Regions from separate parts of the Homo sapiens genome. Here region 1 is linked to region 2. The links come from fine-mapping of genetic effects on gene expression. A gene starts in region 2. The other region holds a variant in brackets. All regions are shown on one strand. Distances are from middle to middle. Region 1 holds the start of TMT1B (thiol methyltransferase 1B). Region 2 holds the start of ITGA7 (integrin subunit alpha 7).

The links. PIP is the estimated chance that this variant, and not a neighbour inherited with it, causes the effect.
Region 1: its variant is the best candidate, but not a certain one, in a credible set for the expression of ITGA7 in lymphoblastoid cells (GTEx, PIP 0.61).

Annotation. Positions count from the first base shown.
Region 1 is chr12:55,680,391-55,685,758 of GRCh38, reverse strand. It overlaps TMT1B (thiol methyltransferase 1B), which reads right to left and starts at 4,023. Exons shown (of 2, transcript NM_152637.3): 1 at 3,507-4,023; 2 at 1,148-1,946. The coding sequence starts at 4,004. The coding sequence ends at 1,710. ITGA7 (integrin subunit alpha 7) reads left to right here. Exons shown (of 25, transcript NM_002206.3): 25 at 471-1,191. The coding sequence ends at 701. RefSeq lists enhancers at 163-662, 3,689-4,364. The variant G/A (reference allele first, on the strand shown) is at 2,125.
Region 2 is chr12:55,705,771-55,711,138 of GRCh38, reverse strand. It overlaps ITGA7 (integrin subunit alpha 7), which reads left to right and starts at 3,235. Exons shown (of 25, transcript NM_002206.3): 1 at 3,235-3,662. The coding sequence starts at 3,457. RefSeq lists a silencer at 3,112-3,321.

The DNA.
Region 1 (5,368 bases), 25 kb after region 2:
TGCTGTAAGGGGCGTGCCGCCCAAGGTACAAGTACACGGGGTGCATGTTTATGAGGCTTGAGAGGTATCATTCCAGAGATGCAGGGGACTAGGAAGCCATTTTCTTCCTCAGGTCTTGTTTGTGTTCTGGGGGACACTATTGGGTCTCTTAAGAAGCTAGAGGGGGTACAAATCTTGAGTCCGGTCCTGATGCTCCACCCTCAAGGCCCTCTTTCAGGGGCCAAGGGAGATACCCTTGGTCCTGCCTCTTGGACGCCCTTCTGGTCTCTCTCTTGCTGTGAATGAGAACCTGGGGACACAGCACTGATGGGAGCACCGTGGGTGCTGCCCACCACACCAGATGCTATTCAGCCTATTTCCTTTCTGCCGCAGCAGGGATGGTGAGGGTGAGGAGCTGTGCCGCGCTAGGCATCTGCTCCAGGGACCGCAGCTCTTCAGGCTCCTCATGGTCTGGCCTGGTGTCCTTATAGATGGGATTCTTCAAACGGGCGAAGCACCCCGAGGCCACCGTGCCCCAGTACCATGCGGTGAAGATTCCTCGGGAAGACCGACAGCAGTTCAAGGAGGAGAAGACGGGCACCATCCTGAGGAACAACTGGGGCAGCCCCCGGCGGGAGGGCCCGGATGCACACCCCATCCTGGCTGCTGACGGGCATCCCGAGCTGGGCCCCGATGGGCATCCAGGGCCAGGCACCGCCTAGGTTCCCATGTCCCAGCCTGGCCTGTGGCTGCCCTCCATCCCTTCCCCAGAGATGGCTCCTTGGGATGAAGAGGGTAGAGTGGGCTGCTGGTGTCGCATCAAGATTTGGCAGGATCGGCTTCCTCAGGGGCACAGACCTCTCCCACCCACAAGAACTCCTCCCACCCAACTTCCCCTTAGAGTGCTGTGAGATGAGAGTGGGTAAATCAGGGACAGGGCCATGGGGTAGGGTGAGAAGGGCAGGGGTGTCCTGATGCAAAGGTGGGGAGAAGGGATCCTAATCCCTTCCTCTCCCATTCACCCTGTGTAACAGGACCCCAAGGACCTGCCTCCCCGGAAGTGCCTTAACCTAGAGGGTCGGGGAGGAGGTTGTGTCACTGACTCAGGCTGCTCCTTCTCTAGTTTCCCCTCTCATCTGACCTTAGTTTGCTGCCATCAGTCTAGTGGTTTCGTGGTTTCGTCTATTTATTAAAAAATATTTGAGAACAAAACCTCTGCCTCTTTGAGTCTTGCTCTGGCATCCCCAGCATCTCTGATTCTCCCTGGTGCCCCCAGCTCAGGAAGAAGGTGGTAGTGGGGAGAGAGGGTCAGGGGGGCTTGGCAGGGATGCAGGCACCATGACTTTTGTGACCAGTTCCTAGAGACGCATGGGTGTAGCCTCAGGAGGAAAGCGAGAGGAGCTTTACCATGGGAACGAAGGAAAGGGACAACATTGGGAGGCAAACGTTGGGAGACTAGTCCAGAAACTTGCAGTTGAGGATACAACAGGGTCCTAGTGTTTCCTCCCTGGGTCAGCGTAGAAGTAGAGCTTTTTCACTGTCGAAGGCGGGATTGAAGTTAGAGATTGCCCTGGCAGAGGTTGGGGAGAGAGGGACTAGTAGGTGGTACATGAATGTCTTCTCTCATTCTGCTAGGTCCCTCTCAGTGGAAGATAGATAGGCTGGTGGGTGGCTTGTTCTAATTGGAGGCTGGGGAAGGAGCAAATGAGTGCCTTGGAGCTTGGGAAAGATTATTTGACAGCCTTTCCCATGATGTGGGGCCCAACAGGTAGCCACTTCAAGGGAGGGGGCTGTCGTTCCATTTGGATTTCGGAGAACTGGGCGTTCTCAAGATCCTTCCAGGTCTCTCTGGTGAGGCAGCAGCCATCCCCAATGTGTTTCCAGGTGGGCTCGAAAACTTGCTGCCACATGAAGGCCCAGCTTCCATATGGTTCTGCCACATGCTCCCAGAAAAAGAGCACACCTCCCTGGGAGGGATGAGAGAGTTAGTGTCACTTGGCTCCATTCTGACCCTGCTCCCTATCGCGCTGATCAAGACAGTCAAACTTCTTGGTGAAATGGGAGCTGCTGGTCTGAGAGTTCATGGAGCAAACTGTCGTGCCCCTGACCTTTTCTGCATCCCCTGCTACCGCCTTCAAAGTGCAT[G/A]TGAAGAACCTCATAACTGAAAGGAGTGGCTGGTGGGAGATCTTTAAAGCCTGACCAGAATAACCGAGGGCATGCAGAAGGGGAAACTGAGAAACAGGAGTGGAGGGCTCATTGTATTATTATTATTATTATTATTTTTTGAGACAGAGTCTCAGTCTGTTGCTCAGGCTGGAGTGCAATGGCGTGATCTCGGCGCACTGCAACCTCCACCTCTCAGGTTCAAGCGATTCTCCTGCCTCAGCCTCCCAAGTAGCTGGGATTACAGGCATGAGCCACCACGCCCGGCTACTTTTTGTATTTTTCAGTAGAGACAGGGTTTCACCATGTTGGCCAGTCTGGTTTCAAACTCCTGGCCTCAAGAGATCCACCTGCCTTGCCTCCCAAAGTGCTGGATTACAGGCGTGAGCCACCTCGCCCAGCTGGGCTTATTGTATTCTGAGATACACGCACAACCTCTCTCACAAAACCCAGATGCATGCACAAGCTGCTTCCTGGACATCGCTGTGAACATCCCAGGGAAACCTCAGGCCCAACTCTTGACTGAAGCTGGGGTTCCTCAAGCTCCTCGCCTCACTATACTCTCCCTAGGTGATCTCAAACCTAGTAAGTCCAAAACAGCTTTCTTCCATCTCAGCAAATGGCACTTTTCATCAGCTCTCCCCTCAGTTGCTCATGCTAGAAACCTGGAAACTATTCTGAACGTTCTCTCCACAGTCTGATGGATTCTACTCTACTTCCCCTACTATCTTTACCTAGAACACTCTTTTATTTTCCCCACCCCGTCCACACTCTGCTTAATCCCTCAGATCTCTCTCTCTCTCTCTCTTTTTATTTATTTATTTATTTTTTTTGATACAGGGTCTCACTCTGTGGCCCAGGCTGGAGTGCAGTGGTGCGATCATAGTTCACTGTAACTTTGAACTCGGGCTCAAGTGATCCTCCCACCTCAGCTTCCTGAGTAGCTAGGACTATAGGCATGTGCCACCACGCCTGGCTAGCTTTTGTATTTTTTTTTTTTTTTTTTTTTGTAGAGACGGCATCTCACTATGTTGCCTTGGCTGGTCTTGAACTCCTGGGCTCAAGTCATCCTTCTGCTTCAGCCTCCCAAGCACAGATCTCGATTTAAACCTCAGTTCCTTAGGTGTCCTCCCCACTCCCCTCCCTGTCCCATGGTGGTAGGTGATCCTCCTGTTGCTTCCACAGCACCCAATTGTGCCCCGTCATGGCACTGGTCATGTCTCCTATTCACCAGCAGGTAGAGGTGGATGGGGTGTCTAATGTGCTACTTACTACCTCAGACGCCCCATTCTGGGGGCCGAACCCTGGGGCGGCTGATGCTGCGTTTGCCTGCCCCACACCCATCCCCTTCCCACCCTGCTTACCGGTCTCAGTACTCTCCGGACCTCCTGCAGGACCTTCCTTGGGCTCTGCACAGAGCACAGCACCAGAGTGCAGACCACCACATCCATGGAGCCATCAGCCAGCTGTCTCATGTCCTCTCCAGGAGCCACCACAAACCGCTCATATTGGAGGTGCCTGTTCTCAGCCATGCTCTTTGTCAGGAACTTCTCAAAGTGGGGATTTGGGTCTAGGCAGGTGACCCTGCAGCCCGGTGGGTAGAACTGAAAGTTGGCTCCGGTTCCGCAGCCCAGCTCCAGTAGGGCCACTTTCCCGGAGGCTCCTGTAAGCCCCTTTATCTGGCTGAAGAGCTCCCGTTTCTTGCTCTCCATCTTGCGGTTGCTCTTGGGAGTCAGCACGGCCATCAGGTAGGGGAAGTAGCTTTTGCACAGGGGCTGCCAGCAGCCCAGCAGAGCCATGAGGTGCAGGGGCAGGGTAAGAAGCAGCACCAGCAGCTGCAGGAGTGGGACCAGGATGTCCATGGCAGACCAGCTCTGAGCTGTGCTTCCGCTGGGGCACTGGCTTTTTCCCTGCTCAGCCTCTGCAGGCGCTGGCGTCCCCTCCCGCTGTGATAGGACTTTGCTCCTTGTCTCCTACTTGACAATTTCCTATTTGCCAGAGTTGAGTGGGTGTATGGAATTCCTCCAGAGGGCGCAGGTCCCACAGCCCCACAAGCTCTTCAATGACTTTTATGTGGGCGGAGGGACAGGTGGTACCCATGTTCCTGAGTTCTGGGGCACTGTGCCCAGCTGAAGGGGGGCAGGGGCTGCTGAGTCATCTCAGAGGGAGTGGGAAGGGGTAAGGGGATATGTTTCAGATGACAGACTCATGGCGGGGGAGTGTCGGGGGCTGGCAGGGCGTTGGGGGTGGGTTGGTAGTGGTGAATGCTGGGGACAGAGTTGACTCATGGGACATATCCTGGCCTCATTTCGTCCTCAGGTCAGGCACTTCAGAGGGGCCATAGGAAGGGAAGGGTGCTCTTGGCAGAGGAAAAAGTAGGTGTACAGGACAGAGACAGCATGCCCTCTCCTGGAAAGGGTGAGAAGTTTAGTTCTGTGGGGAATGGGGTAAGTTGGACAAATAGGGGGAAGTGAGGTCAGAGAATAGCCACTTTTTAGAGATCCTTCCCTCCCTCCCTCCCTTCCTCCCTTCTTTCCTTCTTTCCTTTTTTTGAGACAGGGTCTCTGCTGCCCAGGCTGGGGTGCAGTGGCAGCAGTCTGGGCTCACTGCAACCTCAATGTCCCTAGGCTCAAGTGATCCTCTTACACCAGCCTCCTGATTTTCTGGGACTACAAGTGCATACCACCATGCCCAGCAATTTTTTTTTTTCTGTAATTTGTAGAGACAGGGTTTCACCCTGTTGCCCAGGTTGGTCTTGAACTCCTGGGCTCAGGTGATCCACCCACCTCGACTTCCCAAAGTGCTGGGATTACAGTTGGGAGCCACTGCGCCTGGCTGAGAAGAATTCTTTTTACAAAACATTATTAAACAACTTTTTTTGGAAGAGGCAGTACATTCACTTAGTACAAAATTAAAAAGATACTAAAGAGATTACAGGGAAAATTCTCTCTTCTACTCCTGTGACCCAACCACTCAGATCTCCTCTCTGGAGGCACTAAATGCCATATTGCCAATTTCTTGTGAATCCTTCCAGAGATGACCTGTGAACGAGCAGGGAACACACACACCACGTGTTTAGATCCATGTACATATATACATATACATATTCCCTTTTCTTTTACAAATAGTAGTATATTGTACACACTCTTGTATACCTTGCTTCCCCCCCTTCTTAACAATGTATTGGATTTAGTAGATAATAGCAAATGGGTTTCCAAAGTGATTG
Region 2 (5,368 bases):
CACTCAGTTTCCCCTAATGGTGACATCTTATGTAACTGTAGCATAAAATCAAAACCAAAAAGTTGATATTGGTACAGTATTGTTAACTGGCCTGCAGACCTCACTCAGTTTTCACCATTTTTTACATGCATTTATTTGTTTGTTTGTAGTTCTGTGCAGTTTTATATCTTGTATAGATTTGGATAATCACCACCACAATCAAGATACAAAACCCATCACCACAAAGGAACCCCCTTGTGCTATTCCTTTATGTTTGTCCCCACCCCCCTCCATCCTTGTCCCCTGGCAGCCAGTAATCTGGTCTTCATTTCTATAGTTTTGTCATTTTGAGAATGGTATGCGAGTGGAATAATACAGTTTCAGCATTTTTTGTTTGGAGACAGGGTCTCACTCTATCACCCAGGCTGGAGTGCAGTGGCAAGATCATGGCTCACTGCAGCCTTCACCTCCTGGGCTCAAGTGACACTCCCGCCTAGCCTCCTGAGTAGCTGGGACCACAGATTTGGCTAACTTTTCTATTTTTTGTAGAGATGGGGGTCTCCCTATGTTGCCCAGGCTGGTCTCCAACTCCTGGGCTCAAGTGATCCTCCTGCCTTGGCCTCTCAAAGTGCTGGGATTGCAGGCATGAGCCACTGTGCCCAGCTCAGCATTAATTTTTAATTTAACTAATTCCTAAGCTCTTGACTGAAATACAAGAAGTTCTCTAACAGTTTATTTATTTTAATATTGAGCTTACCGCATTCTCTGGATCCTTCTAGTTTCTTTTTTTTTTCTTTTTTTCTGATGTGGAGTCTCTGTCACCCAGGCTGGAGTGCAGTGGTGCCATCTCAGCTCACTGCAACCTCCGTCTCCTGGGTTTAAGTGATTCTTGTGCCTCAGTCTCTGGAGTAGCTGGGATTACAGGTACCCGCCACCACACCCGGCTAATTTTTGTATTTTTAGTAGAGACAGGGTTTCACCGTGTTGGTCCGGCTGGTCTTGAACTTCTGATCTCAGGTGATCCGCCTGCTTCGGCCTCCCAAAGTGCTGGGATTATAGGCGTGAGCCACCGCGCCCGGCCCCGTCTAGTTTCTTAATTTCCCTCTTCACCTACGATATTATCTTCCACTCCAACATTCTGGTCTCATTTCTCCTTGAGAGAAATCTACATGTCTAAATTTACTAGGCTGGTCTAGCACGCTCTTGTGTGTTCCCCTCCCTCCTTTGCCCCTCTATTTATAGCCAGGCTAATTTTGGGTGGCCTCTCTCTCTCTTCTTTCCTGATCTTTCCTCCTGTGGTGGTGAGGTGACTTCTCAAATATTTGGAGAGAGGAGGTCAGAAGCAGATTCTTGGCATCTGATTTCAGCCCTGGATCACAGAAGCCAGTGGAGTGGGAATGGAGACAGGCAGAAGCTGCAGGTGCAGATAGGAGGCAGCTTGGGCTCTAAAGGCATTTTGAGCTGGGTCGGGGGCGGGGGGACCTGGGCAGGGAGTCAGTAGTCCCAGTTCTGTCCTAATTTTGCAATTCTGCATTCCCATGTCAGCTCTTCTCTACTGTCTGGGGCTCTGAGATATTAAAAAGGATGGGGAGGGCATGGTGAAAGTAGAATCCTGGTGCCAGCCCTGCTGACAGCATATGTATTTCCTTATAGTACCTGTTTAGAGATGTGTTAGTGCTCTGGAGGGGATAGCCACAGGTGTAGTATTGGAAAACAGAGGGCCAGACTTCCAAATGTCTGTTAACTTATCCAAGGCAAAGACTGTCCCAGGGCAGCAGAGTAAGAACCCACTTTTTTTTTGTTTTCAAAGAAGTATAATCCTGAACAATGAAGTAGGAAAGACAGAACACAGGAAGAGGAAGGAGGTAGGACACTTATTGGAACTTTTAAGAAAGGGAAAGAGAAGAAAGAATCGTAAGAATATGATAGTGTTTGAAGGGCAGAGACAACACTAGAAACATTGAGAAATACTCTGAGAAAGATTCCAAGTGTGGCAGAGACAAGAATGATGACAAAATAGAATTTGGGATGAGACAAAATCAGATAGTGAGAGAGAGAAGGGAAGATGGACAGATGTATATTCACAAGACCAACACCAGTAAGCAAGGGGAGTAGGAAGGGGAAGTGGGAGCATTCGAGGTTCCCATTATGCCAAATTATTTCCTGTCTCTCCTTCTGGCCCCATTTCTGTATCGGAGTTATAAATAGCAGAGAGTTGGAAAGTGTCCCCCCACCCCCTTGCCTCTGTCCCAGCCTGAGGGAAAGGGAGAGGAAGAGGGACAGGCCAATGGGTCCCTGTGGAGATCCCATCTCAGCCCCACCCAGGTCCTGCTGAGCCAGTCCAGGACTCTGCCCCCTCCCATCCCCTTTCATGGATAGGAAATGTGCAGTCCTGGGACGGGTCTGGTAGCTGGGGACACCCTTTACATCCCTCTGCCTCTTGGGTCCAGTCTCTTTCATCTTTGCCTTCTTTGACACCCACTCCCCTCCCCACTGCTTAATTTCCTCTTCCTGTAATCATCCCCAGTCGTTTTCTTTTCTCCCTTCATTCCATCCCTTGTCAATTAATCTCTTGCCCTTCTTTCTTCCTCTCTATTCCTTTCCTTTTTCCATTTCTCCATTTGCTCCCCGTATCTCCCGAGTTTCTCTCTCTCTTCTTGCCTCTTTTTCTCTGTTCCCTTGAATCCTGACGATGTGGCTAGCACTGCTGTGGTCATTGCCGGGCTGGGGGCGGGGGATGGGATAGGATGGGGGAGGGCAGCGGTCTGATCCCAACAGCAGAAAGAGTGCTCTATGTGACCATGGGGGAACAGGGAGCACTAAGATGCCACGCTGCACCCAGGCCCAGGACGGCTCCCCTTTCATTTCCTCTCTATCTGCACATCTCTCTTCCCAGGTTGTCTTTTAGCGTCTTCCCAACTTCTCATCTCTTACCCTCCTTCCTCTGTTTCAGCCCCTCTCTTTCTATCTGTACTTCTCTCCCTCCGCATTCCAAGGCGCCGCCTCCACCACTCCCGGGGTGGGGATGGGGTTGGGGGAGAAGGGGAGGAGAGCGCCGCGCAGGGGCGGAGCCGGAGACGGTGCTGGGCTTGGGGGGCGTGGTGGTGGGGGGTCAGCAAGGCTAGTTTCCATCCCAGCCACCAGCCTGGGCATCCCCTTGGAGACGGGCTTGGGTCTCCACCTGCCGCGGGAGCGAGGGGCGGGGCCGGAGGCGGGGCCTGAGTGGCGTCCCCGGGAGAGGAGGCGGGAGCCGGAGTGGGCGCCGGAGCTGCGGCTGCTGTAGTTGTCCTAGCCGGTGCTGGGGCGGCGGGGTGGCGGAGCGGCGGGCGGGCGGGAGGGCTGGCGGGGCGAACGTCTGGGAGACGTCTGAAAGACCAACGAGACTTTGGAGACCAGAGACGCGCCTGGGGGGACCTGGGGCTTGGGGCGTGCGAGATTTCCCTTGCATTCGCTGGGAGCTCGCGCAGGGATCGTCCCATGGCCGGGGCTCGGAGCCGCGACCCTTGGGGGGCCTCCGGGATTTGCTACCTTTTTGGCTCCCTGCTCGTCGAACTGCTCTTCTCACGGGCTGTCGCCTTCAATCTGGACGTGATGGGTGCCTTGCGCAAGGAGGGCGAGCCAGGCAGCCTCTTCGGCTTCTCTGTGGCCCTGCACCGGCAGTTGCAGCCCCGACCCCAGAGCTGGTGAGTCACCGCACCCGCCCAGAGTCGCCATGCCCGAGCCACAGATCGTCCCCCTCCCCACTCTGTGGGCCTCCTCATTTCTCTGTTTTCTAGCCCCACCAAGACCTAGACTGCCCACAGACATCCCACATCCCAACCTGGAGCCTTGCCTCATCTGGCTTGCGTCTGAAGCTGCACTTCCCGGCCCTGAGACCAGTATTTTGCTTTAGGGATGAGTTGGAAAGCAAGGTTCTTGTCTTGGCAGCGAACCATCTCCTTCTTCTGGGCCTTTCCCCCAACTTGCATCCTTGATCCAGCCCCAGGGCCTCTGGCTCCCCTGCTTCTTCCAAGGGCTGAATTCCCCAAGGGAGGGAGACTGTCTGTCTCTGCTTAGAATGGGAGGAGATGGAAAGGACATAGAAGTTGAGGGTGCCATGAGAGGGATGCATGCAGGGCAGACTCCAGAAATAACTTCCTGCTAGAGCATTGCCATGGATGGAATGAGGGCAGCAGGGCACTGGAAGGCCAGGAGAGAGCTTCCACTTCTGTGGCTTAAGACCACGGGAAGATTGGGAGAGGATCTGCAGGTCTGCCAACCTGCAGTAGGTGGCTTGGTGATAGAGAGTGGCAGCAAACTGAACCCTCAAAGTACTAGTAGCAGTAGTAGTAGCCGCAGCAGCTGTAGCAGTGAGAGAGATCCAGGAAGGATGCTGGCCAGGCTGCTCCCCTTCCTCCTCCTTAGCAAATTTCCAACTCCAGGAATCTCAGCAGCTGGGAAGGGCCAGGAGGAGTAAGGGGTGGAGGACAATTCTAATTTTTTCTAATCAGTTCAGGACCCATGGGAGATGGATATACTTTTGTGAGGGGCCTGTGACTGGTCATGTTGCCTGTATCCTTGGCTCTTGCTACATGTCTGATTGTAAAAAGGGAGGCCAGAGGTGAAGAAAGCTTCTCACCTGCTCCTGCTAGGGGGCTTTTCTCTCTTCAACCAGTGCCTAAGCCACATTAAGTATCCATTACTGGGATCAATGCTGTCCACTGGGACTGTCTTCTGCCTCTACTGTCGGTCTGGGGGCAGGGGGCAGGGACAAGAGCTCATTTCTCCTCACTTGCTTGGGGAGTGGGGGCCTAGCTCTAATCTTTCTTCTTCCATTATCCCTATCATCTGGTAGCAGGGTCGGTGGTCCCCAAAACTTTGGGAGAGATAGAAAGCAACGGACTTCATCTCCTCTTCTGTTTACCATCTGCTTCCTCATTCACCTTTGCTCCCTCCCTCCCTTCCTCCCTCCTTCTCCATCTGTCAGAGTTCGAGGACTGGAGGCCTTTTTAGGACATGCTGAACTCTCTAAGCTATTTCCAGGCAAATTCTAGGTTATTTTTAATAGCTTGGTCTCTTGTCATTTCCCCCTCCTCTCTGAAGGTGGCCCCTGGTTCCGTCTCCCAGAGCCAAGCTGGGGCCTTTCCCAGAGGGCCTGACTGCCTCACCCTGCTTTTGCTCCAGCAGGGGGTGCTCTGCTGCTGGGGGGCGGGGGGTATGTGAGAGGCCAGGCACCTGCTCAGTCCCTAGCTTTTGAGTTGCAGGTGGCCTGCCTTAGCACTCACTGATGAAAAAAACTTCTTGCCTGTTTTGATGTCTTTTAGTCTAGCTCTGGGATGAGACTTTAAGGTCTAACCTTTGCTGTGTGGTTCCAGCCTCATTTACTTCCCTCAACTGTAAAAAGGATATA